7 linked regions of the Homo sapiens genome follow. The protein of the gene in region 1 interacts with the protein of each later gene in a pairwise test. Each region holds a gene or a part of one and is shown on either strand. Other genes may lie near its edges.

The links.
Region 2: the proteins of SLC35F6 (region 1) and MS4A7 interact in a two-hybrid assay, tested with the Homo sapiens proteins (one large-scale study listed by BioGRID and IntAct).
Region 3: the proteins of SLC35F6 (region 1) and SEPHS1 interact in a two-hybrid assay, tested with the Homo sapiens proteins (one large-scale study listed by BioGRID and IntAct).
Region 4: the proteins of SLC35F6 (region 1) and KIAA0232 interact in a two-hybrid assay, tested with the Homo sapiens proteins (one large-scale study listed by BioGRID and IntAct).
Region 5: the proteins of SLC35F6 (region 1) and ALDH2 interact in a two-hybrid assay, tested with the Homo sapiens proteins (one large-scale study listed by BioGRID and IntAct).
Region 6: the proteins of SLC35F6 (region 1) and OAT interact in a two-hybrid assay, tested with the Homo sapiens proteins (one large-scale study listed by BioGRID and IntAct).
Region 7: the proteins of SLC35F6 (region 1) and TBPL1 interact in a two-hybrid assay, tested with the Homo sapiens proteins (one large-scale study listed by IntAct).

What each region holds. Positions count from the first base shown.
Region 1 is NC_000002.12:26,770,373-26,774,386, forward strand, and holds part of SLC35F6 (solute carrier family 35 member F6 precursor), read left to right. Parts: intron 1-3,878; coding exon 3,879-3,951; intron 3,952-4,014. UniProt on the Homo sapiens protein: Involved in the maintenance of mitochondrial membrane potential in pancreatic ductal adenocarcinoma (PDAC) cells. Promotes pancreatic ductal adenocarcinoma (PDAC) cell growth. May play a role as a nucleotide-sugar transporter.
Region 2 is NC_000011.10:60,381,168-60,385,181, reverse strand, and holds part of MS4A7 (membrane-spanning 4-domains subfamily A member 7), read right to left. Parts: intron 2,054-4,014; 5' UTR 2,041-2,053; coding exon 1,894-2,040; intron 95-1,893; coding exon 1-94. UniProt on the Homo sapiens protein: May be involved in signal transduction as a component of a multimeric receptor complex.
Region 3 is NC_000010.11:13,327,563-13,331,576, forward strand, and holds part of SEPHS1 (selenide, water dikinase 1), read right to left. Parts: intron 2,227-4,014; coding exon 2,136-2,226; intron 889-2,135; coding exon 789-888; intron 1-788. UniProt on the Homo sapiens protein: Synthesizes selenophosphate from selenide and ATP.
Region 4 is NC_000004.12:6,785,727-6,789,740, forward strand, and holds part of KIAA0232 (uncharacterized protein KIAA0232), read left to right. Parts: intron 1-4,014.
Region 5 is NC_000012.12:111,765,145-111,769,827, reverse strand, and holds the start of ALDH2 (aldehyde dehydrogenase, mitochondrial isoform 1 precursor), read right to left. Parts: upstream 2,896-4,683; 5' UTR 2,846-2,895; coding exon 2,732-2,845; intron 1-2,731. UniProt on the Homo sapiens protein: Required for clearance of cellular formaldehyde, a cytotoxic and carcinogenic metabolite that induces DNA damage.
Region 6 is NC_000010.11:124,408,811-124,412,824, forward strand, and holds part of OAT (ornithine aminotransferase, mitochondrial isoform 1 precursor), read right to left. Parts: intron 3,391-4,014; 5' UTR 3,362-3,390; coding exon 3,163-3,361; intron 156-3,162; coding exon 1-155. UniProt on the Homo sapiens protein: Catalyzes the reversible interconversion of L-ornithine and 2-oxoglutarate to L-glutamate semialdehyde and L-glutamate.
Region 7 is NC_000006.12:133,956,064-133,960,077, forward strand, and holds part of TBPL1 (TATA box-binding protein-like 1), read left to right. Parts: intron 1-4,014. UniProt on the Homo sapiens protein: Part of a specialized transcription system that mediates the transcription of most ribosomal proteins through the 5'-TCT-3' motif which is a core promoter element at these genes. Seems to also mediate the transcription of NF1. Does not bind the TATA box.

The sequences.
Region 1 (4,014 bases):
CTCCAGCCTCAGTGACAGAGTAATACCCTGTCTGAAAAACAAAACAAAAAAACAAACGTTGTTGGCCGGACGCAGAGGCTTATACCTGTAATCCGATCACTTTGGGAGATTGATACGGGTGGATCACTTGAGGTCAGGAGTTCGAGACCATCCTGGCCAACATGGTGAAACTCCGTCTCTACAAAAAATATAAAAATTAGCTGGGCATGGTGGTGGGTGCCCGTAATCCCAGCTACTTGGGAGGTTAAGGCAGGAGAATCACTTGAACCTGGAAAGCAGAGGTTGCAGTGAGCCAAGATCGCGCTGCTACACTCCAGCCTGGGTGACAGAGGGAGGCTCCGTTTCAAAAAAAAAAACAAGAACAAAAACAAAAGACAACAAACAACAAACGTTGTGAAGAACTGACAGCAAAGTGCTGCCCACCTTAGGGGTCACTGCTGTCATCCCCAGGCAAACTGGGGCTGGATTTTTGTTCTAGCCTGTGAGGCTGGGGTCTTTTCTGATTCTGCGCCAGGAGTCGAAACCTGTCTCCAATCCAGGATGAGAAGCCTGGCTTTCTGCCCCAAGGTACCTGCAGGCCTGAGCATCTCAGGCTGGGCAAGGCAGCCCATGCTGCTGACACCCAATCCCTTGGGCTGTCAGCCTGCCCCAGGCCCTCAGATACAAAGAGATACCATTTCCCCAGCCGGGAGCGCTGCCAGCCAGGCCTGTCTAGGCAGACCTACCCGTGGAGAAAGCGAAGACAACCCCTGTGGGAGGTGGGGAGCTCAGCACCAGCCCTACAGTCAGCTCCCCAAGAAGCGCCCCAGCCTTGGGGAAGGACAGGCCCCGAGGGGTTTCCCCTATGGACCAACTTGTTCTACCAGCAGGGGGCCCTCAGACTCAGGTGGGAAGTAGGACTCATGGAAATGTGGCCTCAGCTTCCATACCTGCCCCCTACAGACAAAAATAATAATAAAATAAATAATAATCCTTGCCTGAAGCTTCTGATCAACCTTCATGGCCTGGCAATAGCTCCCTTGTCCCTCCTAGAGGAAACTTGGCTCCTGGCCTGGGGATTCCCATCTCTCTGACTTCACTTGCTCTGGGCAGTTGGCTCTGTGCCCTTGGTAAGGCTTGACCTCTTCTCTCTTCCTTGCTTTGCCTCTGTTTCACTCAGTTGCCTCATGCAGGCCTTCTCAGGGGGCTCTTTCTGCAAAAGCAAGACTGGGTTCGAGAGCAGCCCTGCTGGGTCTGTGGCCCTTACCCATGTTCCATGTCCTGTCCTGGCCAGGGATCCAAGAGCCAACAGCATATCAGGCAGAAATTAGGCACCATGGGTGCAGTGGCTCATGCCTATAATCTCAGCAACTCAGGAGGCTGAGGCGGGAGGATTGCTTGAGCCCAGGAGTTCAAGACCAGCCATGGCAACATAGTGAGACCCTCTCTCTAAAAAAAAAAAGAGAAAGAAGTGAGACTCCAGCCCATGAGGTCAGGTGTTTCCTGACCTGGGGTGGAGGCTTCCCCAGCTCCCAGACTCCCTGTTCCATAGCAGGCGCTTTCTTTGCCCCACTGGTACTGGTTACAGCCTGGTCCCCAAGCCATGCCAGGCTCCAGGTTTCTCTCTGCCTTCTAAACAGTTCTGTCCGAACTTCTCCCTTCAACTCTCCTTTGCCCCTGCCATTCCCAAGAACCACAAGGAATCTTAACTACCCCTCTTTCTCCACATCTCCAGGAGCTGGTGGGGTCTCTCACTATGGAATAGGTTTGCCATAGCCCTGTTTTCTTCCGCAAACTCAGAGGCATATAGAGAAGCCAAAGCTGGACAGGGACTTTGTCAAACCTAGACCCTAACTGCGGCACAACCAGTGGCACATGCTCTGGGTGCTGCGGGGGAGGTACAGGAACCAGAGGACTCCCCCGCCCTTTGGGAGCTGAGGCTCGCTACAGAGATGAGCCAATGGCAGTGCAGGGCTGTGCACTGCAATCTGACTGCCCTGGAAAGACATTTCAAGGAAAGGCATTTAATAAAAAGAAGTCCCGAGTCTTGCACTTTAAAGACATCCACTGCCTATGCAGGATATGCTGCAGTGGGAGCAGGTCGGTGGCCCACAGGAAACGGCTCTGGGACTGTGTTGACTTCAGTCAGCACATGATGTTACTGATGCATTTGGAGCTGTGTCAACGAACCCAGGGTGTCAACATGAGGGAGGGCCACGCCTTGCTAGCCTCAGTCTGGGCCAGATCACATGCTCTTGGCTCTGGGCCTGGGTACACCAGAGTACTTCCAGAAGTCAGTGGCCAGGGGTGAAAGGTTAGGAGAGGCTGGAGCTGTTTAGCCAGGAGATGAGAAGATTCAGAAGAAGGTCAACAAGTCCCCAGGTACCTAAAGGGCTTTCAAATGAAAGATTAGACAAGATTCCACAGACCTAACCAAGCCCAGCAAAGACGAAATTCAAGACAGAGAATTTTCATGCACAGATGGCAGACAGTTCAGAGTGATTGGTGGTTAAGCTGCCCAAAGCACTATGCCACAAAGGATTCTGGGCTTGTGTCTAGGCTCATCGGGGAAGTATGTCATAATCAGTCATCACCATCTGCCGGGTGCTGACTGGGAGGTCATGCCATGAGTGTGATGTCTTTGCCACCTGCTTGAAAGTCAGCATTAGAAAGATCTTCCAAACCATTCAGGCTTTTTGAAGGTGAGCAGGTGGTCTGTATTAAGTCATTTCCCAGGACCCAAATACTCCTGTAGACCAGAGGTTCTTGATATTTTTCATGCCATGGGACTCTTTGACAGTCTGGCACAGCCTATGGACCTCTTCTTACAGTAATGTTTTAAAACGTGTAAATAAGACCAAGGATTGGGCCAGGCACGGTGGCTCACGCCTGTAATTCCAGCACGTTGGGAGGCTGAGGAGGGTGGTTCACAAGGTCAGGAGATTGAGACCATCCTGGCTAACACGGTGAAACACCGTCTCTACTAAAAATACAAAAAAAAATTAGCCAGGCGTGGTGTCGGGCGCCTGTAGTCCCAGCTGCTCAGGAGGCTGAGGCAGGAGAATGGCGTGAACCCGGGAGACGGAGCTTGCAGTGAGCCGAGATCTTGCCACTGCACTCCAGCCTGGGCGACAGAGCGAGACTCCATTAAGAAAAAAAAAAAAAAAAGACCAAGGATTACAAAAGAAGTCAATTAAATTGAAATACAGTTATCAAACACTTAAAAAAGCAAATTCGTGATATAGAATATATATAGATATGCTTTTTTTTTTTTTTTCTGAGACAGGATCTTGCTCCATCACCTAGGCTGGAGTGCAGTGGTGCAATATCGGCTCACTGCAGCCTCTGTCCCCCAGGTTCAAGTGAGTCTCATGCCTCAGCCTCCTGAGTAGCTGGGATTACAGGCTTGTACCACCACGCCCGGCTAATTTTTGTATTTTTAGTAGAGACGGGGTTTCACCATGTTGGCCAGGCGGTCTCGAACTCCAGACGTCAAGTGATCCACCCACCTCAGCCTCCCAAAGTGTCGGGATTACAGGCGTGAGCCACTGCGCCCAGCTATATAGAAATGCTTTCTACTACATTGTTATAAGTGGGTCTGACTACTGTAATGTTCATGAGTGATGAGTGTAAATGATACCTCACGATATATACAATGACTGTAATGTGATCATGAGAGTATCTGTGATTTCTGTGCATTACAGAGGCACAGACACAGTGACTTGAGGAAATGCCAAGTTAAAACTCCTTGAGGTGAAGACTGACCCCTTTGAGAGGGAGCCCCACTCTGGGGCCGGGTCACCCAGGTCTGGGCCTCTTGACATTGAGAGGTGTGAGCCTCTTCACTAGCACCAGGGTAGGATGCTGACAGGGTCTGACCTTCCCTCTCTCTCCTACAGATGGGCGGACAATTTCATGGCCGAGGGCTGTGGAGGGAGCAAGGAGCACAGCTTCCAGCATCCCTTCCTCCAGGTATCTGGCCCTGTCCCTCCTACCTCCTGTCTCCCGGGCCTCAGACCAGGCGCCACCCCCGGC
Region 2 (4,014 bases), on another chromosome or scaffold:
TGGAAATTGCTGGATTGAAGTGGGAGGGGTAGGGAGCAAAAACCAAGATGGCCCCCAGACTTGAAATCAACAGGCAACACAGGATCTGGACAGTCTACAAGAGAGAAGACAGGAAATCTAGACTGCACTTCAAACAGATAAAAGTGATTATTTGAATGCACACGGTAAAGTATAAAGAGTATAAAATACATTATAATTTGTTATATTAAAGAGGAAAAATGTTACAAGGAGCCAATCGATATGCTTCTAGAGAAAGTCATGTATAGCTAACCTCTTCTTTTCTGATAGGATTATTAAACCAGCAAATCGGAAAGTGATCATACACACATTTTAACTTTTTTTGAAAAAGATACTTGACAGTTTTTAAATTTATTTTCTTGAAAAGTAGATAAAAAAGTTGTCCAGTGAGGTGGAAATAGAGAGCAAACTTTTCACAGGAGTGTTAATGAAGAGATTTTTCAGTTGAAATTAGATAGAGCAGGTCATCTCTTCTGCTGTAATTCATCTTATTTTGTTCATCATTGGATTTTAATAATAATTATTTCGCAAGTGGAAGAACTGAAGTTTAGCTGTTAGCTTGCTCTAAAGCCCATGCTTTTGCTCATAGTTTAATGCATGTGCAATTGAAAGATGATGCAAACATAGGAGAAATAAAAAAAGAAGTCAACCATTCACATCATCAACAGTTATTGAATACCACAACAGGTATGTTGTGTGCCAGGCACGAGGGAATGAAGCAAATGAAAATCACTACCATTGGAGAGCTTATATGTGTACTATGTCTTGTCTGTAAAGGTACAGACAAGTTCCATGCAAGGCAGAATAGAGTTAAGAGCAAAGTAGTAGGACATGAGGCTTGTGAAGTACTGGAGGCATGGTACAAACTATGTAGGGATTTTTAGGCTATGTTTTACCAACTTTGCTTTTCATTTTGAGCAAAAAAGGAATCCCACTGGATAATTTTGAGCCAGGAGAATACATGATCTAACTTTCATTTTTAAAAGAGTACCCTACCTGCTGTACTAAGAATAGATTGTAAAGAAACAGGGCAGGGAGATCCATCTAAATAGGCAGTGAATAGGACCTGGGTATTATAAGAGGGTATTCAAAACCACATGGAGATTAAAGTTCTGGATATGAGGGATGATGATCTGGGACACTTGGATGTCTTATAGTTACTCATATGAACGGGGAAAAATGGGTCATGAGATTAGTCTTGATCGTCTCATCTCAAAATATTTGAAAAATAAGCTCAAAGTTAATTTAATCATATTGAGTAAAATCCATATGGTTAAATAGAAAATTTTTACTGTACTAATGACAAAATAAGAAAGACTAATTTGTGGCTGGGCACAGTGGCTCATGCCTGTAATCCCAGCACTTTGGGAGGCCAAGGCGGGCAGATCACAAGGTCAGGAGTTCAAGACCAGCCTGGCCAGTATGGTGAAACCCCATCTCTACTAAGAATACAAAAATTAGCCGGGCGTGGTGGCGTGCACCCATAGTCCCAGCTACTCGGGAGGCTGAGGCAGAAGAATCACTTGAACCCAGGAGGCGGAGGTTGCAGTGAGCTGAGATCGTGCCACTGCACTCCATGCTGGGTGACAGAGGGAGATTCTGTCTCAAAATAAATAAATATATAAATAAATAAAATAAGAAAGACTAACCTGTTAATTGTGAAGCATGCTAGTGAAAAAGATCTAGTGGTTTTAGTTTCTAGAAACTGCTGCAGAGCTTTAAGAGTCTTCCCTTAAAGCTCCATTTCATGTCCTCATTAGCCTGGAGTCAGCCAGAAAAGAGTGAAAGAGTTTCCCAGACCCACTGTAGATCTGTAGTCTAGATACATTTACAAAGTATTTTCTCAGTATTCCCCTTATAATGAGGTGGACTTACCCCAAGAACGGTGGTTTCTGTTGGCAGCCCGTTCTGCAGGTAATCTTCGTTTTGGTACATGTGTCCAGGTTTCTCTCTTTGAGGGATAGTGATGCCCTTTGGTGTAAAGCTGTGAGAAACCCCCATGGTTTGGGATTGTAATAGCATGATGCTGATGATGCTGGAAGAGGCATCAAAACTCAGTTACTTCCCAAGGTTTGACTTACAGACATAAACTTCCCAGGGACCATACTTTGTAGGAACTTAAGAAGGTATTTGCCATTATTCCAAGGCTGGTTGTCCTTCAGAAACAAAACATGGGGATCAGTGGAGCATTGGAAAGTGGGCATGCTGGGCACAGTTCATCCATTGTGGTCAAGAAGCATGTCACTGGGAGAGTACTGTACACATTTTGAGGGGTCCCACAATTGAGAGGTGAGCAAATCACATAGAACTTGCTTTGTAGCCCTGAATGTGTCCATCTCCCTCTCCCTCCAGTGACCTCTGCTTCCAGCTTCCCTTCCCTATCTCCTGTATCTCTGCTTCACTTGTGCTACCTTCTCACACCACATCTTCCAGGATTACACTTTTATGCTACACCTGCACTGATCAGTCTTCTACTCCAGTCTTCATTTTGTCTTCGTAAAAATGTTGAGGATGAATGCTGTTCCACTTTCCTTTCCTATAGCGAGATGGCCTGTCCCATCCGGAATCTTCCTCCTTGCTTATATTGGCTTCGTAATTAGTAATGTAAACATTTACTTAACTCCTGCTGAATTCCAAGCATTAGACCATTGCAGCTCTAATCCTTATAACAACCCTGTAACTTACATGTTATTAAATCAATTTTATACATTAGAAACCTGGGGCTAATAAGCTCAAGTGACTTTTATTGAATGAAATAGTCACATAAAGTACTTAGCCTGGCACTTAGAATGTGTTCAATATATGGTAGCAAATATTAACAGCCTGTGTTTACATGACTGGATTGAGACTTGTCTGGCTCAGACGCTTGTGATATTTTTTTCTCTATGCCATGTTAATTCTCCTCCTCTTCCTCTTCCTTCCTTTCTTCCTTCCTAACATTTCCAGTTCCCTTGTAGATTCCAGGAGCAAGTTGTCTGCCACCACTAACTCAGCAGCATTGCTGGGCCTCTGTGGTGTCAGCAACAAGGCTCAGCACCTGAAATGTTGCCCAGATTTGTTTTCAGCTCAACATTCTCCCTACTGAAGGCCAGAGTTTAGTTAAAGGCTTGTCATCCTTGAAAGGTGCCACAGCTCTGCTGCCTGACATTTTGCCTCAATGTGTTGGTGCTTTAGGAATGGTTCTGGCCTCTCTTGGGTGGAGTGAAGAACATGTAAAAATTGGAAATGACACCTAGAATCTCTTCCTAGTGAGGGAGATGGAAAAGTGCACTGGGATGGGAGTCCAATGCCTAGGCATCTAGTTGCACATCTGACCATATGTCTTGGAGTCCAGTCGTGTGTTCAGATCCCATATCCACCAGTTACTGCTAAACTCACCCTGGGCAAGGTATTTTCACCACTTCATAGGTTTGTGGTACAGGTTGGATAAGATGACACATATAATGGACTCAGCATAGGGGGAGGCATGTGATAAACTCCCAAAACATATCAGTTTTATCTAATATTCATTGGAAGCCCAGTTCTGATATTGATGAGCTGGCCGTAGGCAGGATACTTTCCCTCATTCATCCCCAGTTTCCTTATCTGTAAAATAAGGATAATGACACTATCCTGAAGGACTCTTGTGAGGATTTGAATGACACACGTGAGTGTCTTTTGTTGTAACTCTCTGAGTTTTATCAGGTGTTCCATAATAGTCGATCCATGTTTGGACCTCCATTTTATTTCTACTCCTAGATCTGTGCCTTAGTCTAGTTTCTCATGCTCTCCGGGCATGAGATACTTTATCTGAAGAATTATTAAACCTAAAGTTCTCTTTGTTTAAGGAGATAGTTTTCATTTCTTGGAATTTTGAAATCTGGGTAGAAGTGTGGGTGAGGTTACATGTCCTATGAGGGGAATAATGTTGAAGCTGAATCCCTGCAGTGGAGTCAGGGTGAGCCTTCCAGCACATCTTTAAAGCCAGAGAAGGAGAAAAAGTGTCAGGCTTAGAGA
Region 3 (4,014 bases), on another chromosome or scaffold:
ATAAAATAAATGGGAAGAGAAGACATATTAAAAAACGCTTTCTAAACATAGTGTGCCATTGTAAACTGTGGTGAACACTTTGGAAGACAGTTTGGCACTATCTATAAAAGCTGAGCCAGTACTGATCTCTTACACGTGCCTCAGAGGGCTGGGCCAAGGAAGTCCATAGCAGTCGCCCCAGTGTGAAACAGGAGAGCAGAGAAGCCAGTGGAAAAATCAACACAGCCAAAAGGAATCTACTACAGCTACATATAACAAGGAGACTCTCAGGAACAATGGTGAACAAAACAAGTAAAAAAAATGCAAAACTAATTTGCTGCTTAAGAACACAAGGGCTGTGCAATAAAAATATTCTAAAATGCAAGAAAATAAACACAAAATTCAGTGGTTACACCTAAGCAGGAATGCAGGGGATGGGTGGGAGTGGGGGCACTTCTAGACTTCCAAGGTTATGTTCTGGAAATAGCTCCAGTATCTTAAACTTTCTAAATTTCCATTCTGAATGGTTTGCTTCCAAATCTTACATAGGTAACCCACACAAACGCTTTCTAGAAATAGTTCCTCTGGTATGTCAGAAGTTAGGACTTCCTTCTTAATTATAAAGCACTGTAAGTCAGGGACCATCTGCAGTGATCTATGGAATGCCAACCTGGTACCAGGAGAAGACGGTCTGTAGTCACTGGCCAAAAATCTGGCCACCTACCCTGAGACAGTATGTGGCCAGAAAAGCCTAAGACATTTACTGTCTTGGACCCCTGGGACCGAAGCGCCCTTCCCACCTGTCATACCTGTCCTGTTGAGCCTCGCCATGTTCATCATCGCCTCCTGGTAGGCCAGCTCTACATCTTCTTGGGTGACCACTAGTTTAATCTTATTCCATTTCTCAGGCTGATAATAGAAATGTAGGTGAGGGAGAGAAAGAGAGGAAAATGTGATTAATCTTTACTTCTAGCAACTGAGAAAAACAGCAACTTTTTCTTATTTAACTTCTAGGGACTTTAATTCAGAAAACTGAATTTTCCAACTCTGGTTTTTCTGTGGATAGTATTTTAGGTGTCCATTAGACCTGTCAGCATGGCGTCTTTTCTGTTCTCATCCCACATTTCTGTAATTAAGTGCTGTGATTTATTGGGTATGTGTAGTCTAGCGGGACACACGGCGGCACTGCTGTACATGCAGTGTAGTGTCCTGCTAGTGGAGAAGGGCTCCCCCATCCGTGACACTCCCTGCCTCACCTGCTTCCAGCTCCCTGCTAGCTCAGGCCTGGGAGGTGGGGCTGGAAGGCACCTCTGCGCAACATCCCCGCAGTGGCCTTCTGCTCTGCTCCCCATCACAGGGGGAGGAGGGAAAAACTGCTAAAGAACGTGGCAGCCTTAGAGAATTTCTCTACCCTGCGACATCAAGCTAAGATATACCAGGTTGATGAAAGACGTGTAATTATTGATTATTCTCTTTCAACTGTTTCTCAGGACTGGTAGTTTCAGATGATAGTTGTAGAAATTAAATGCACCATGATATGTGAGAATATACCCCAATCTTATTAATTTGTGAGTTGTTACGGCAATGAAGAAAACCAATCTTAAAGTATGATTATAGCTCACTGGAAAAATGACTCACAAGACATATCCTCATTATAGATAGATTCATTCTGCACAAGAGAATTATTTATCAAAATGTTCTGAGTTACTCATCAGTTTAAAAAGACAAAACTACCAAACAAAAACAACCAAAAACTGCATAAAACAATTTAAACTGTCAATAACCCTGGTTTTATTTATACCCCAAACACTACGCCTTCCACCAATTCTCCTTCATATTATTTCTTAGTGATGTTTAAGACATGAAAGACGAAGCTATCTCAGGGCCAAGTAAACAAAGCTAACCCCCTGCCGAGCAAATTCTTTACAGAAAAATCTTAAAGCTCCAAGCTGGGGCTTACCTACTGCAATCAAGCATTCAATATGCAAAACTGTTATTTAAAGACTATGAACAATTCCTAGGATTTCTTTAAGGACTTGACTAATATTAACTCCCTGGATATGAAACTAAAAAACCTCATTTCCCAAATCCTCCAACAAAAATTACCTGCAAACGTACCATTCCCCTCCCTCCCATCACAGCAGTGGTTTACTCACGATATCCAGCCACTGGTGCACAGCCACTGCCACCTGTGTCCCCAGGGGTTTTGTCAGCACCAGCACGTCCCCTGGCACTGCATTGTCTGGCCTGAAGAAAAGAAAAGGGCATGTTCTAGTCAAACTAACCAAGGAGATGAGCTCATTGTTATTAACACAAGAGAAGGAATAATCTGTCAAAAATATATCTGCCTTTGCATTTACTTAAATTGAAGCCAACTACCAGCATGTATGGGACAGAGCCTTGCAACCTGCTACTGAGGCTATTGCTGGAACAAAACATTCAGCCATCAGGCTGGACACAGTGGCTCATTTCTGTAACCCCAGCACTTTGAGAGGTCAAGAGGGGAGGATCACTTGAGCCCAGGAGTTCAGGACCAGCCTGGGCAACACAACAAGGACCCCATTTCAAAAATAATATACATATTTTTAAAAAGAATGAAACATTTAGCCTTCAAACGTTTCATCAGGCCCAGATTTCCCCTCGACCACATACGAGTGTATGTGTAATTTTCACTACAGACCCACTAGCATTCAAAAGCTTCTGAAACAGAGAGTGCTTCTTTATGATCACTGATATGCTAGAGACTCAGGACGGATTTTTCGGCCCAGGGGTTTGGTGGATTTGCAGGCAATCTGTGGGTCTAATGTCTTGGTGATTTCTGCCTCCAGGTTCTCAAACTCAGACTGACTGATGGTGAGTTTCCTACCTGGCACCCAGACGCCTTGGTGGTCCCTGTCTTAGAGACAGAAGGCAATACTAAAAAGGCACCTCTAAAAGATGACAACTGGTGCCCGAATGAAACATCTACCAGACTTGCATTCACACTACCAGGAAGCAGGTCTGAGAGTTGTGCCTTTCGCAGCTTCAGCAGCTGAGCTCCTGAATCGTTCCATTCCCCGATGCTGGCCTCCTCAGGTACTCACCCAAGTCGATGAAAACAAAGCCAGGGCCACAGACTTCAATACCAACACCCAGCTCCCCAGCTCAACCTATACCATTTGTATCCACTCTCAGCTTTGAAAAATAGAATTCTGTGACTACGCAAGAAACTTGTTTTCCAAAAACCAGACCTGAAGACATAAATGTCTTCGAATTCAGACTCAGTTGTACCATAAAGTTGATGTTCTTTTTTTTTAAATTTTTTAAAATTATACTTTAAGTTCTAGGGTACATGTACACAACATGCAGGTTTGATACATAGGTATACATGTGCCATGTTGGTTTGCTGTACCCATCAACCCGTCCTTTACATTAGGTATATCTCCTAATGCTATCCCTCCCCCAGCCCCCTACCCCCGACAGGCCCTGGTGTGTGATGTTACCCGCCCTGTGTCCAAGTGTTCTCATTGTTCAACTCCCACCTATGAGTGAGAACATGCGGCGTTTGGTTTTCTGTCCTTTTGATAGTTTGCTTAGAATGATGGTTTCCAGCTTCATCCATCTCCCTGCAAAGTACATGAACTCATCCTTTTTTACGGCTGCGTAGTATTCCACGGTGTGTATGTGCCACATTTTCTTAATCCAGTCTATCATTGATGGACATTTGAGTTGGTTCCAAGTCTTAGCTATTGTGAATAGTGCTGCAATAAACATATGTGTGCATGCGTCTTTACAGCAGCATGATTTATAATCCTTTGGGTATATACCCAGTAATGGGATTGCTGGGTCAAATGGTATTTCTAATTCTAGATCTTTTTTTTTTGAAACTGAGTTTCACTCTGTCACCCAGGCTGGAGTACAGTGGCACGATCTTGGCTCACTGCAACCTCCGCCTCCTGGGTTCAAACCACTCTCCTCAGTCTCCTGAGTAGCTGGGATTACAGGCGCCTGCCATCGTGCCCGGCTAATTTTTTGTATTTTTAGTAGAGACAGGGT
Region 4 (4,014 bases), on another chromosome or scaffold:
TGGTTTGGAGCTTAGAATTCAGAGATACCAGCATCACAATGCAGGCCCCTTGCAGTCTGGCCCCCAGTCATCTCTGTACTTTATCTTGTCCTCTTTGTCCCCTTTCCACACTGTCCAGCTAAACAAGACTGCTCTTGGTTCTCTGAACATGCCAAGCTATTTCAGACCTTCTTTGCTTATATTCTTTTCTCTTATTGGAATGTCCTGTCTCACTCCCACTCCCTCCAGTTCTTAAAAGTTCATATCAAATATTCTGTTCTCTCTGGAGTCCTTTGGAAGTCCTATTACAATGAATTATTCCTTTCCTCAATCATAGTTCTCTATTTTTCCTTCATTATTGTCTATATCATGTTGTATTATAAATTGGTCATAGTAAACTCTGGCTGTGGTGTCTATCCTATCATTTTGCCCCCAACACCTTGCTCAGGCGTTTAAACATAAGTGCTTAATGTTAAATGTAAGTGTTTAAATGTTTGCTAAATAAAGTCAAAGTCTGTAATCAACCTTAAAGAGTATGTTAATATTATAAAGTATATTTATTTTTATTTTTTCTGACCCTGGCTTAAGTCTGCAAATAAAGTTTGTTTGTTTTTGAGACAGCATCTTGCTTTGTCACCCAGGCTTGGAGTGCGGTGGTGTGATCGTGGCTCACTGTAGCCTCAACCTCCCAGGCTCAAGTGATCCTCCCACCTCAGCCTCCTGAGTAGCTGGGACCACGGGCATGCACCACCATGCTCAGCTAATTAAAACAATTTGTTTTTTTGTAGAAACGGGTCTCCCTGTGTTGCCCAGGCTGATCTCGAACTCCTGGGCTCAAGCAATCCTCCCACCTCAACCTCCCAAAGTGCTGGGATTACAAGCATGAGCCACCGCACAAGACCCAGATGAAGTATTTTTAATAAACATCGGTGCCCACAACAACATTAGAAATGTAGTTTTACTATGTTGAATATAGTTACTATTTAGAATATTTCTTTACAGTTATTTTTGGTCTTTCACATAATCACATAAGTGGTATTTTATACAAAGTAAAAACTGTCATCTTTCCCATTTGTATCTAAACTTGTAGGGTCTAATGAAATAGATGAAGTGCCTGCATTGCTGACTGTGAATCACCGACCCATTTTTTGGGCAGAGGGAACCAGAGCACAAGGTTAAAAATATTCCTTGTATTGGCCGGGCGCGGTGGCTCACGCCTGTAATTCCAGCACCTTGGGAGGCCGAGGCGGGCGGATCATGAGGTCAAGAGAGTGAGACCATCCTGGCCAACATGGTGAAACCCCATCTCTACTAAAAATACAAAAATTATCCGGGCATGGTGGAGCACGCCTATAGTCCCAGCTACTTGGGAGGCTGAGGCAGTAGAATCTCTTGAACCCGGGAGGTGGAGGTTGCAGTGAACCAAGATCACACCACTGGACTCCAGCCTGGCGACAGAGCAAGGCTCTCTCAAAAAAAAAAAAAAAAAAAAAAAATCCTTATATTTGAAGTATAATTTAATTCCCAAGAGATTACATGCTTTTTCTTTAAAAGTTTTCTTTTTTAGAAATTTATTATATGCATCAAAAGCAATTGCGTTTGAGGGGGCTTCTTAAAAGAATATTAGAACTGGATTTGAAAGACTCAGGTTTGCTTCTTGGCCGTGAACAAGTTTGTTAAATCCCTTTGGAAGTCAGTCAGTCTTTATTTGGGAACTGAGAACGGTTATTCCTGTTGCTTTGTAGTACATTTAAAGAGGCTATGCTTTGTGTACTGCACATCCTTACACAGATACAAGGTAATCAGATGTTTTGCTTTATAGCATTTTTGTCCTACTTGTTACCCAGCCTGGAAACCTTTAGAGACTTCCTTTCTTGACCAGATTTTTACCAGGTTTGCCTCCATGAGTCTTTTCCATCAGTCTTTTTCTTTACTCTTTCATGTTTCCTCTGCCCCTACCCTCCCTGAAGCTCTTACTCCTTATGAAGATAGTTACTGTAGTCCTCCAACTGGCCTCTCTTTTTTCTGGTCTCTCCTCCTCTGTTCTGTTGCCAGAATTATTTAATAGGCAAATCAAATCATATCATGACCCATTTCCCAAGTATACACCAGAGGTTCTCAACATTTCCCTCTATTCCATCACACCTGAGGGATACGACAGTTTTGTTGGTAAGGTTATGGGCTTTCTCCTCCCAAGATTTTTACCTTGGAAGTGCTACCACACTCCTCCCCTGGTTGAGAATTAATGTTAAAGAGTTAGGAAATCACTGTAAGATCTTTGCTATCTAGCCTCATTCTTACTTTTAGCTTAATCTTTTATTGGATCTCTTCTTTTTCGTTTTTGTGTTTTTGAGACAGGGTCTTACTCTGTCACTCATGCTGGAGTGCAGCGGTGCCATCTTGGCTCACTGCAACTTCCACCTCCCTTCCTCCTGCTGCCTTGGCCTCCTGAGTAGCTGGGACTACAGGCACATAACGCCTGGCTAATTTTTTGTAGAGATGGGGTTTTGCTCTGTTGCCTAGACTGGCTTCAAACTCCTGGGCTCAAGTAATCTGCCCGCCTTGGCCTCCGAAAGTGCCGAGATTATAAGCACGAGCCACCACGCCCAGCCTGCATCTCTTCTTGTCACCTTATATTTCAACACAAGACCTCTGGCCACTTCCGTTATTGGCAGACTACTCTGAAATATCCTTTCCACCTTTCTCTCTCTTTCTGAGTCTTGGAGTCTTGGCTTAAATGCTGCTACTTCTATTTCTGTAACCTGATTTTCAGAATTAACTCATTATTTTTCTCCCACACAGTGCTAGCCTGATACCTCTACTTATCTATTTTTTCCTTATGACTTTTTAGTTTATATACATGAAGGTCTTTCCTGGATTATAAACTCCTTGAGAGATGTAGAGGAAAATCTTAATCATTTCTGATTTCCTCTAGTGTGCAATATAGTCTTTTACATAGTACTCATTTGTTAAATGTTTGACTGAATTAACTCAAAATTTACAGTCTCTGATTTCAGGAGGAGGAGGATAGAGTTGGAATAACTTTGTATGAGAACTTAGTGAATCCACGTGACACACTCAGAACAGGGCCCAGCATATAGTAAGTGCTCAGTAAGTGGCAGCTTTTAGCTATTAATTTGAATAGGTGGAGACGACACTAGTGGTTGGATACACTGGTTAATTGTATATGCTAGTTTATTATGACAGTGTTCACATATTTATTTCTGGTGTGTGTGTAAAGAAAAAAATCTCATTTTCTTTCTTTTTTTTTTATTTTTATTTTGAGACAGAATCTCGCTCTGTCGCCCAGGCTCGAGTGCAGTGGCGCGATCTCGGCTCACTGCCAACTCCACCTCCTGGGTTCACGCCATTCTCCTGCCTCAGCTTCCCGAGTAGCTGGGACTACAGGCGCCCGACCACAACGCCCGGCTAATTTTTTGTATTTTTAGTAGAGACTGGGTTTCACCGTGTTAGCCAGGATGGTTTTTATCTCCTGACCTCGTGGTCTGCCCGCTTTGGCCTCCCAAAGTGCTGGGATTACAGGACTGAGCCACCATGCCCGGCCTTTTCTTTTTTTTTTTTTCCCGAGACTGAGTTTTACTCTGTCACCCAGGTTGGAGTATAGTGGCGTGATCTTGGCTTACTGCAACCTCTGTCTCGTGGGTTCAAGTGATTCTCCTGCCTCAGACTCCCCAGTAGCTGGGATTACAGGTGCGTGCCACCATGCCCGGCTAATTTTTTATTTTTTAATAGAGACGGGGTTTCACCATGTTGGCCAGGTTGGTCTTGAACTCCTGACCTCATGATCTTCCTGCCTCGGCCTCCCAAAGTGCTGGGATTACAGGTGTGAGCCACCGTGCCTGGCCAGTCATCTCATTTTCAACTTGCATCTACGTTCTTTCATTAATTTTGTGACTGAGTTGGAGAGGGCTTTTGCATAAACAGATTCATGATGGTGGTCCTAAATTATTCTGAAGACAGGCAAACCTGTCTGTAGATGAGCAGGTTTTTTGCATATGGCTTAAGAAAGTCTGG
Region 5 (4,683 bases), on another chromosome or scaffold:
CAGAGTCCACTGCTGTATGCACCATCCCTCTTCCCTGCTGAGTCAGCAATAAGGCCACACTGCAAACAGCCCAGGGGGCTCTAAGAGGTCCAGTTCCAGCACGGCGCCACCAGAGTAGAATGCTCTGTGGTCCTTGGAAAGGGTTAAATGAGATCTGAACGTACTCAGAATGATAACCCAGGTACATTGTTCAGTGAGACGGCGAGCTTCAGAATATAAGTGGTTGCATCTCATTTATGTTAAAAAAAAAAAAAAGTCTGGTGTGCTTGCATTCTCTCTCTCTCTCTCTTGCTGCAGGCACTTGTAAATGCAAACAAAATGTCTACAAGAGACACACCCACCTGTTCACAGTGCTCTTGGAGGGAGTAAAATGGGGTATCCAGAGAGGTTTATTTATTTATTTATTTTTTAAGAGATGGGTTCTTGCTCCATTGCCCAGGCTGGAGTGCAGTGGCACAATCATAGTTCACTGCAGCCTTACATCTAATCTCAAGCGATCTTCCCACCTTGGCATCCCAAAGTGCTGGAATTACAGGCATGAATCACCTTGACTGACCATGTCCAGAGAGTTGTAAGTCAGTCCTCTGCAATTTTATACAGTGGGCATGTGTTACTTTAATGATCTCAAAAAGTCTGATAAAGAAAAGCAGCCACAGGGAATTGACTCGGCTCCTCCAGCCTACACCCACAGAGTAAATCTGGAGAACAGGATGTGTTACCTATGGGCCTGGGTGCATATCTGGACCCAGCTGCCTCATCTGCATGTGATAAAGGATAAAGATTTTAATCAGATCCTGTGGCCAGAAGGGTTCCTAGGGCGATGGCTGTTCCTTGAGGACATTTCTGAGACAGGGTCTTGTTCTGTTGCTCAGACTAAGTGTAGTGGCCCAATCATAGCTCACTGCAGCCTCGAACTCCTAGGCTCAAGTGATCCTCCCACCTCGGCCTCCCATATAGCTGGGACTACAGGCATGTGCCACCGCACCTGACTAATTTACTTTTTTAGTAGAGACTAGACACAGGGTCTTGCTATGTTGCCCAGGCTGGTCTCGAAATCCTAGGCTCAAGGGATCATCCCACCTCAGCCTCCCATATAGCTGGGACTACAGGCATGTGCCACCGCACCTAACTAATTTACTTTTTTAGTAGAGACTAGAGACAGGGTCTTGCTATGTTGCCCAGGCTGGTCTCGAAATCCTAGGCTCAACGGATCATCCCACCTCGGCCTCCCAAAATGCTGGGATTTACAGGCATGAGCTACTGCACCTGGCCTCTGCTAGATCTTTTGATGCTCAAGTCTTCCAAGCATGAACTTGCACAGGCTGCCAAGGGAGCCATAGCTGCTGCCTTTTTAGCTTGTGTTATGCAAAAGATTTTATTTTATCCTTTTAAAAATTCCCTTGCAAATGACCTTTGTAACATCCCCTAAAATCACACGCATGTGCCTTTACCCATCACCTATATCCAGATTTGCAGCCACACTCAGGGCCAGACCAGCAGGTGTGCTGTTGAAAGCAGCTGGCTAGGAGCCAGCTCTACAGCATCCCAAATCAGCAATAGTCCCAGAGGATCGGTGGTCCCTTTGTTCCCACCCAGAGTCACAACATACCATGGAATGTTCTGGTTAGGGGCTTACTCCTGGAAGTTCAGCTGTGAACCCCAACTATGCCACTGACTTTGGTCTTTAGGTGAGTCACTAAACCTCTTTGTGACTCAGTCTCTTCATCTGTAAAATGGAGAATTACAGTCCCTTCCTACTGAGGCTGTTGTAAAAATTACCTTAAATTGCAAAACAGGTAGACGCTTAGAACAGTGCTGCACAAAGGCTGTGCAGACAGGACAGGAGCTGTGATTAACTATGAAGTGACTGGTTGATGAGGGCCTGTGTGAACCTAACCCTCAGAGCGCCTTTCCATTTATAGGAGAAAAAGCTTAAGTCAGAGAAGGCAGCCAACATGCACTGGCACAAACAAAACAAACTCTTTCATAACCAATTTCAGCCTCTGTGAAGTCTAGAACTTTAACCAAACTCAAAGATCAAAACAAAAAATATTCCAAAGTATTACTGATTGAGCAATCAATAAATGGACCACAGGAATCAGTTTTATCCTGGAAAGCTCCTCCTTGGTTTGGTCGAAGCCGGCGTTGGAAGCCGCAGACACCCCTTGGGGTCGGCCCCCTGGGGCCGAAGGTCCTCCAGGATTCCCTACTCCCAGCAATGGAAGCAGCCGAGCGTGGCCTCGCCCATGGTGAACTGGAGAACGTGGCTGCAAATCACCTCTTTCCTGGTTTTTCCTTTTGAACTCCTTGGATGAGGGCATGAGTCAGGGGGTAAAGGGGATGACTAAGGAAAAGACAGGAAAGTTCCTGCAAAGAGGGACTTGGTCGCGTCTTCTGAGTGGGTGAGGGTGGGGACCCTGCGGAGACCCGAAAGCAAGGACCATGGGGAGAACGGAACCCCGAGAGTTGGCCCTGGAAAACAGACCGAGGCTGGGCGAAGACGGAGAGGGGGCCCAAGTCACGGGGAAATGGGACGGGGACTGTCAGAGGCGGCGAAGGGGCTAAAATGCTTGCAGGAGAGGAGGGGGCAGATGTGCTTCCAGGTCAGCCTCTGCAAACCCCTCGAGCCCCAGATGAGTACACTAAGGCCCACGGCGGCGCGGGGCCTTCCTAGGGGCCTGCGGGGGACTCGGGCCGGAAAACAAAGCGCGAGCCCGGCCGGTGGGCTCACCTGGTTGCAGAAGACCTCGGGCTGCTGGTTGGGGGCAGGCACGGCCTGGGTGGCGGCGGCTGACAAGAGGCGGCGGCCCAGGCGGGGCCCGAAGCGGGCGGCAGCGCGCAACATCGCAGCGGGCTAGCGGACAGCGAGCGGACCGAGAGCAGAGCTAGGGTCTCAGGGCCACTGAGCCGACCCCGCTCCCCGCCCCGCGCGGCAGCCAATGGAAAGGCGGGGGCGGGCCGGGGGCGGGGCTGCCTCTACCATTCCTCGGGATGGGGCGCGCAGCTGATGCAAGCGAAGCGGGTGGCGCTAGGTACCCCCGGCCCGTGGCTGCCCCCTGGCTCGCGCGACGCCTCCGCGCCCGCCACCGCCCTCCGCCTGTGCGGAAAGACCCGGCCCCGCGAACGCAGCTCGCCTTGGTTGAGCCCCCAATGTGTGCCTTTGACCCCAATGTGAACAGGCCCGAGCCAGGGCGACCCTGACCTTCCCGGCTGATGCTCCAGGTGAAGAGACCGGCCGTAAACCCAAAAGCGAGATCATTTCGGAGGTGAAGGAGATGAACGAGGTGACATGGATGGGGCAGACGGCACTGCTTTTATAAGTACCATGGTCAGGAAATGACAAGTGAGACCTGAATGATGACAGGGAACAGCAAGGGCAAAGGCCAGGAGATGAGACCACCTGGCACGTGTTAGAGAAATGGAAAGAATGAATGGAGCCCAGTTAACAAGGAGAGAGGCGGCCAGGGCAAGGGCAGGGACGGTCTTGGAAGCAGCGGTTCAGAGTTTAGAACAGGATGATTTGCATGATTTGCTTATTCTTTTTTTTTTTTTTTTTTTTGAGACGGAGTCTCACTGTGTCGCCTAGGCTGGAGTGCAGTGGCACGATCTCGGCTCACTGCAAGCTCTGCCTCCCGGGTTCACACCAGTCTCCTGCCTCCGCCTCCGGAGTAGCTGGGACCACAGGCGCCTGCCACCACGCCCGGCTAATTTTTTGTATTTTCAGTAGAGACGGGGTTTCACCGTGTTAGCCAGGATGGTCTCGATCTCCTCACCTCATGATCCGCCTGCCTCGGCCTCCCAAAGTGCTGGGATTACAGGCGTGAGCCACCGCGCCCGGCGGTGGGACTCTGATTTCAACACCAGATTCCACCAAAGTCGCCCTGGGGGCTCAGCACCATTCCACACAAACCAGAGGAAGAAAAGGCATGGGGGTGGCCCATGGGAGGTTTCTGTGGGCTGAGCCTGCTCGCCTGGCTGGATTTCAATCACACAACCATGCCTCCATGCAAAAGAGTCTGGGAAATGAGTGGCCCCTGTGCCAGGAAGAAGGGAAATAGGTTTGGAGATCAGCTGCAGAGATAATCTGATAACCAAGACTCCCTTCCTTCTCTGAATTCAGCCATGCAGGCCCCACTTCCCCTTCCCAATGGCGCCTTGCTTTTTTTTTTTAGATGGGGTTTCACTCTTGTTGCCCAGGCTGGCACCATGTGGGCTCACTGCAACTTCCACCTCCCAGGTTCTAGCGATTCTCCTGTCTCAGCCTCCCAAGTGGCTGGGATTACAGGCGCATGCCACCACACTTGGTTAATTTTTGTATTTTTAGTAGAGATGGGGTTTCATCATATTGGTCAAGCTGGTCTCGAACTCCTGACCTTAGGTGATCCGCCCACCTCGGCCTCCCAAAGTTCTGGGATTACAGGCATGAGCCACCGTGCCAGGTACTTTTTTTCCCTTAATACTGTGTGTGGAGATCGTTTTGTCACAGCACACAAGGACTATGTCCCCATTCTCTTCAACAGTTTCATGGTATTCCTCTGGATACATGAGGTAGTTTTATTTCATGAATTTCCTATGATGGACATTTAGGTTGTTTCCAATCTTTTGCCACTACAAACAATGCCACAATGTATGCTCTTGATTTGCTTAAGAAATTAATAGAAATGAGGCTGGCACCATGACTCG
Region 6 (4,014 bases), on another chromosome or scaffold:
GTTATTATAGAAAGCTCTAGATGTTAAGGTCAATTTGTCCACTTGACTCTTCAGAGCATTCACAATCTTGGGGTGACAATGCCCTTGGTTGACAGCACTGTAAGAACTCAGGAAGTCAAAATATTTTCTGCCTTCTACATCCCATAAGTAAATACCTAAAATACATAAGAAAGGAAAATAATTTTAGACAATTACTATACGGCATAAAGTCCAAAAATTAAGAGTGCTAGCAAGCCCTCTGAATGCCTATATATGAACCTCTATTTAATACATATTTGTAGTTAAAGCTTGTTTTAGCTCAGGCATAATAAACTTTGGTTTGTAAGGAATTACTAAGAATTGTATTTTATCTGCCCAGCTTCAAAACACACATTTAACAAAAATAACACAAAAAGGTTATAAACTCTGGAGTAAAACCTTTACCTAATTCTAAGATTTAGGATCCAAAATTAGAATTTAAAAGCAGAAGTTAGGCAGGGAGCCGTGGCTCACGCCTGTAATCCTAGCACTTTGGGAGACCAAGGCAGGGATTGCTTGAGCCCAGGAGTTCCAGATCAGCCTGGACAACACGGCAAAATCCCTGACGCTACAGAAAAATGCTGGGCATGGTAGTGCGCGCGTATGGTCCCGTTACAGAGGCTGAGGTGGGAGGATTGCTTGAGCCTGGGAGGTAGAGGATGCAGTGAGTTGAGATTGTGCCACTGCACTCCAGCCTGGGCACCAGAGCAAAATCCTGCCTATAAAAAAAAAAAATAAAATAAATAAAATTTAAAAATAAAAAAGCAGAAGTTACACATAACAGACAAAAATCATGAGAAGTAGACTGTAATAACCCTTAGGATGGAAAAAAAATATTTGTAAATCATGTGTCTGATAAGGATCTAATATCCAGAATTCTTACAACTCAATTTCAAAAGGACAAACAACCCAATTTAAAAAATGGGGAAAGACTTGAATAGCTATTTCTTCAAAGAAGATATACAAATGGCAAGAAACACATGAAAAGATGTTCAACATCACTAATCATTAGGAAAATGCAAGTTAAAACCACAATGAGATACCATCTCATACTCCCTGGGATGGTTATAATTAAAAAAACAACTTTTGACAAGGATCTGAAGAAATTGGCACTCTCATACATTGCTAGTGGGAAAGTAAAAACAAGGTTGCCATGTCATGTAATATGAAACAGATTTTCAATAGTTCAAAAGAAGATATGTCTACAGTACTGGTACCAAATAAAATACAAGCAAATGACCAAAATGTGTGATACTCTTATATTGTCATTTTCTGGTACAAAGCTAAGTAATAAACTTTGGTTTTATTTGGTTAAGGCTGTTATTTATTCCAAATTGTAGATTAAATCACCATTTGGCAACTACCACCGTAATCATTTATTCAGGCAAGAATCATTAGTGGATGCTGAAATTGTGAGTAAAAGTTCATGAGTAACTGGATATTTACAGAGTTTTACACTCTGTCCCCACAAGATACTTAATACAAAGGGAAAGAAGACCAAGACAACCAAGGATTGAGGAACTGTTCTGGGTTAAAGAAGACTAAACATGACAACTGAATGCAACTCATCGGAGGTTTTTCTTTTGTTATAAAAGAGAACAAATGACATCTGGATTAGGTCTCTAGACTAATGGTGCTGTACCAGTGTTAAGTTCTTGATTTTTACAATTACTCTATGGTTATAAAAGAGAAAGTCAGCTGGGCACAGTAGCTCACACCTGCAATCCCAGCACTGTGGGAGGCTGAGTGGTAGGATCACTTGAGACCAGGAGTTCAAGATCACCCTGGGCAACATAGCAAAATCTAATCTCTACAAAAAATAAGCCAGGCATGGTAAGGCACACCTGTAGTCCCAGCTACTTGGGAAGCTGAGGTGGGAAAATCACCTGAAGCCGGGAGTTCCAGGCTGCAGTGAGCCATGATCACACCACTGAACTCCAGCCTGGGCAACAGAATGAGACCCTATCTCAAAAAGTCATTGCGTTTTTGGAAAGACACACTAAGTATTTATGGGTAAAGAGATGTCATGTGGCGGGGCGCGGTGGCTCACGCCTGTAATCCAGCACTTTGGGAGGCTGAGGTGGGTGGATCACCTGAGGTCAGGAGTTCGAGACCAGCCCGGCCAACATGATGAAACCCTGTCTCTACTAAAAATACAAAAATTAGCTGGACGTGGTGGCGTGGGCCTGTAGTCCCAGCTCCTCGGGAGGCTGAGGCAAGAGAATCACTTGAAACCGAGAGGTAGAGGTTGCAGTGAGCCGAGATCCCACCATTGCACTCCAGCCTGGGTGACAAAGCGACATTCCGTCTCAAAAAAAAAAAAAAAAAAAAAAAAAGAAGAAGAGATGTCATGTCTGCAACTTCCTCTCAAAACAGTTCAGAAAACAATGTAGAATATGCAGGCGGCGGGGGGAGAAGAGAAGGGAGTGAACACACTAAGACCAAAGCAGCAAAAAGTTAGCACTTGGAAAATCTGGGAGAAGTATAAAAGGAAAATGTCAGTACTATTTGTTACAACTTTTCTTAAGTCTAAAACTATGCCAAAATAAAAGTTAAAAGAAAAAAATGACAGCAATATGATAGTACTTTCCTTATTTCTCTTGCATTCCCTCTTGGTAAGGTCTACATGACAAAGACAATGGTTCCTCTTTGAAGCCTCCATAGCACCTAACACAGCAGCACTAGACACTCAATAAATGAATTAACTGGCCAGGCGTGGTGGCTCACACCTGTAATCCCAGCACTTTGGGAGGCCAAGGTGGGAGGATCACAAAGTCAGGAGTCTGAGACCAGCCTGGCCAACATGGTGAAACCCCATCTCTACTAAAAATACAAAAATTAGCTGGGTGTGGTGGCGCACGCCTGTAGTCCCAGCTACTCAGGAGGCTGAGGCAGAAGAATCGCTTGAACCTGGGAGGCAGAGGTTGCAGTGAGCTGGGATTGTGCCACTGTACTCCAGCCTGGGTGACAGAGTGAGACTCCGTCTCAAAAAAAAAAAAAAAAAAAGAAGAAGAAGAATTAACCATGTCTGCAATATACACATTAAACACATCTAGAAAAATGTATATTGTGAAAATATGGAAGCAATTTTTTTTTATAAAAGGTTTCAAGAAAAGGGAAAAGACGGATTAATTTGAAACGTACCTTTTCCTCTCTCCAGGGCTACAGGTAAAGGATGGTAGTTGTGTGCACCATACTTATATTCCCTTTCAAAAATGTCATCAGAGGTTGGAGGGCCTTGGACTGTTTTTTTAGTTGCAACAGATGTAGCAGAAGCCACTGAAGAATGAACTCCGCGACTAAGTACAGCAAACCTCTGCAAATGTGCTAGTTTGGAAAACATTGTGTCCTTCAAGTAGAAAAACCACAGATCTGTCCAAAGAAAAGAGAATGCATTAAGAGTGAGAATCCTTGGCTTATGCCTATAATCTCAGCACTTTGGGAGGCTGAGGTCAAAGGATCACGTGAGCCCAGGAGTTTGAGACCAGCCTGGGCAACAGAGCAAGACTCCATCACTAAAAAAAATTGAAAAATTAGCTGGGTGTAGTGGTATGCATCTGCAGTCCCAGCTACTCAGGAGACTGAGGTGGGAGGATTGCTTGAGCCCGGAAGTTGAGGCTGCAGTGAGCTGAGATTGTGCCACTGTACTCCAACCTGGGAGACAAAGAAAGGCCCAGTCTCAAGAAAAAAAAAATGGCCAGGCGTGATAGCTCACATCTGTAATTCCAGCACCTTGGGAGGCCAAGATGGGAGGATCGCTTGAGCCGAGGAGTTAAAGACCAGCCTAGGCAACATAGTCTCTATAAAAGAAAAAAAAAGAGTGAGAATCTTGAGTCAGGTGTGGTGGTTTGTGCCTGTAGCCCCCAGCTGCTCAGGAGGCTGAGGCGGGAGGATCACTTGAGCCCAAGAGTTTGAGGCCAGCCTGGGCAACAGAGTGATACCCTGTCAATCAGGCAATCAATCAACCAACCAATCAATAAGAGTAAGACTCTTTCC
Region 7 (4,014 bases), on another chromosome or scaffold:
GTGAACATGAGGACTGTTTTTAGATGAAGGATACCAGTAATAACCTAGGTGATTGATTTCCTTCTGTTTCATCATAGACCATGTGATGAAATTATTGCTATAAAATATGAACGTTGCAGTTGATTTTTAGAAGAATTTATAGTAGAATGTTTCCACATTGTCTCTGAGTTAAAATCTCTGGTGTTTTCAAATTTTAGCTGTATTGTGACATTCGAACTAATAAAGATTCCCTGAAACTTAAATCCATTTTGTTGTGCCTTCTGTATGTCTGGTGCCGTGTCAGGTGTGCAAAGCTGGATGAGAGAGGTATTTCCCTTCAGGTGCTTTTTGTGCACTTGTAGGTAGCAGAGAAATGACATGTGTGTAATAAAACATGACAGACACAAATATGAATTTTAAATTCTTTATTACATACTGCCTGGTACTGTCACTATTGGTGAATGGACTTCATCATGCCTGCTAAACTAGAAGTTTCTTGAGGATCAGGAGTATGAGTAGCCATCATCATATTGTATGTCCCTGCCCTGTGTGTGTATTTTGAAGATTACGTTGTTAATAGAAGGAGATACATGTTTGTTTATTTCACTTCAAGAGCTTAGCTAGTGGATGAAGGAAACCTTTTTGAAATCTGATTCTTGATGCCTAAAATTTCAACTTTGTATTCTGGCTGTGGGCATGCAAATTACAAGCAGTGACACTTTCTCAAGCATGATTACAGCTTCTAACCAATTCAAACAATAAAGATAATGGTGGACTGCCTTCACTTGAGTAGACACGATATTTGCTCTTGTCACATGACTACCACTTTGGGAAATTTCAAAAGGATGAGAGACTGTATACGTATCTGAGGTTTTTCCAGGCTACATAGACAAATTTGATTTTTGTATTATTAACCAGTCAATCTTTTCTTTAGAAGACAGATGGAGTTTGTGTATTTGTGTAGTTGTGAAAAAGCAAGATTCTGGAAGTATGTCTTTAGTGGAAAGGAATCAGGTCACATCAGAAATTCTACTTGTCTGTGACTAAAGGGTGATAAAATAGAGAATTTGGTTTAAATGGCTGGTTTTGTGGGTTGAAGCATGCTATGGATCCCATTAAATGTTTTTAAAAAAAAACTCAATAGGGTGATTTCTGGGGTAGTGGAGATGTGCCTTTGTGTGGGAGTCAATAATGAAAATGTTTAAAATTTCACCAAAAAGTACAGCACAGAAGTTTGGCTGTTGGTTACTTTCACCATCCATTAATAAAAAATACTGAAAACCAGACGGTGTGTTAAGGACAGAGTTTTCTTAGGACATATGTGGATGATTTCAGCATTGAATTGTGCTTAGCACAAGATAGACATCTGTGTGTAGACATTGGCCCATGGTATGTTTTTGTTTTTTAACTCACTAGGTGAGAACTTAAGTCTTACTTAAAAGCAGTAAAAAAATTTGTTTCCATTAATAAAATGGTTCCAAAGAATCAGGTGTTAACGTTCCCGCTCCTGATAAATTACAAGTATTTTCACTGTGAGACAGAAGAGTTTTGATCAGAATCAGTTACGTTTTCTTGAGATTGGGATTGGTACAACACTTAAAGAGTACGGACTCTGGATGCAGGCAGCCTGTGTTCAGCATCATGGCTGTGCTTTTAATTAATGGCATGGCCTTAAATATTAAATAGCTTTCTCACTGCCCTGAGCCCCAGTTTCCTCATCTGTACTAGGGAGTTAATACTACTACTACGTTACAGGGTTGCTGTGAGAATTAGCATAAAGCACTTAGAACTTTAGTTAAAAGCTTTAAAAAGTATTAGCAGGTGCTAGTAGCAGTGGCACTGGATATTATTTTAAAGGTGAACTGTTGGACCACTTGGATGCTTTGTTTCTTTGGTTGGGAGGCTTTCTACTAGAGCATTGAAATTCTTTCTTTCTTTCTGTTCACTGACTATTGGACTCATCTCTGCTGTTAGGCTTTAGGAGGGGGAAGTACTTTTTTTAAGTTTTGAATTGTCACACAGGCATCTGGTTATCACTGATGGCAGATGGACTAAGTAAAGAGAGACATCTCTGTTTCTTGGAAAAGGAAGGCCGACAAAGCCTGGGCTGGCACCATGTTGCAGCTATTGAAATACTATTTCCCTGTGGACTTGACTTGTTTAGCTGTATGATACTTCTGAATAAAAGGAATAAACCCCAATGGTTTCATTTAACAGAATTAGGCTTTCGTTAGAAGGCACTATTTTTTACTTGTATAACCTTAGTTGATGGTAAACTTGAAGCTTGTTAGTATCAGTGTAAAGCCATGTGTTGTGAGCTTTCTGTGCCACTATGAATGTTCTAATAGTAGCTTTTTTTTGTAATTTTAGAAGTAGCTAAAATTGCTGCTCTGCCCCAGTAATTCAGGTGGCTCAAGAATGACTTCGTAGGATAGCAAAATTATTTGTTTATGGTAAAGCTAAAAACAAATACTGAAGCTACCTAATCAGGAAAATAATTTGATAATTATAGTTTTGTTTAGGCTGCTGCTGAAATAATAGCTAACTTTAAAAAGTTAAGTCCAAATGTTTTAGTTTAGTTGTGTGGACATTGGAAACTGCTGACTAAAAATAAATGTTTCTGCCTAAACAAAGTGAATTGCAGACTGTTCTTTCCTATTCTGGCTAATAACCAGGTCTTAGTTTTTAGTTGAAATCCATTTTTATAAAATATATACTATAGAGGTTTATATAAAATATATTATTAAAAGCATATTTTGCTTTAAATGTGCAGGGTAAAGTGTTATAATTCCTTCTTCCATGTTGTGCTGGTTTTGTTTATTTGTTTCAGCTGGTTTTTATAAGCTTCCACACACTAAGGAGGTTGGCAAATATGCTTGTATTTAGAGGTGTGACTTTTGTTTTCCTGTTTAAGAGAGGAAATGATCATGACTGTTGCACCAAATAGATAGAGATATATATTTCCTTTAGTTTTAGATACCCTGAGGACTGTGCTGGGAAATTTTTTTTTTGTTTGAGACAGAGTCTCACTCTGTCACCCAGACTGGAGTGCGGTGGTGGCATCTCAGCTCATTGCAACTTCGGCTTCCCAGGTTCAAGTGATTCTTGTGCCTCAGACACCCAAGTAGTTGGGATTACAGGCATGCGCCACCACGCCTAGCTAATTTTTATATTTTTAGTAGATGCAGGGTTTCCCCATGTTGGCCAGGCTAGCCTCGAACTTCTGACCTCAAGTGATCTGCCTGTCTCAGCCTCCCGGAGTGCTGGGATTATGGGCAATGGGCACGAGCCACCATGCCTGGCCTGTGTTAGGAAATTTTTAGGAAAACAGGTTGCCATGGTATCAGTACTATAGTCCACAATAAAACTTGCCTGTTTTGAGACAAAGTTCTGTCTAACACATTGTTAATTTTTCTCTAGTGTTCTTTCTTTCTTTCTTTCTTTTTGTTTTGTTTTGGAGATGGAGTCTCACTCTGTCGCCCAGGCTGGAGTGCAGTGGCGCGATCTCGGCTCACTGCAACCTCCATCTTCTGGGTTCAAGCAATTCTCCTGCCTCAGCCTCCCGAGTAACTGGGATTACAGGCACCCACCACCACACCTGGCCATTTTTTTGTATTTTTAGTAGAGATGGGGTTTTACCACATTGACCAGGCTGGTCTTGAACTTCTGACCTCAGGTGGTCCCTCTGCCTCAGCCTCCCAAAGTGTTGGAATTACAGGCGTGAGCCATTGCACCTGGCCACCTAGTGTTCTTTCTATCACACTCTTTTTCAGGGACAGATGTTGCTGTCTTTCAGATATGAACATAATAAAGTCAATGTGTAACCCAAAAGTGCAAATATGAAGATGGAGATTTGATTTATGACTGTGGACAACATTTATAGGGCCTGTTACTGTTTGAAACTCAGTTAATGAACTTGAAGCTTTTGTGGAACAAGAACCACCCCATCCTTTTTAATTTGTCAGATGCTTCTGGTGAGCCGCAAGCGTTTTTCCTCTCACCTACTTATGGCTGCAGTGTGTTCCTTGGGCATTT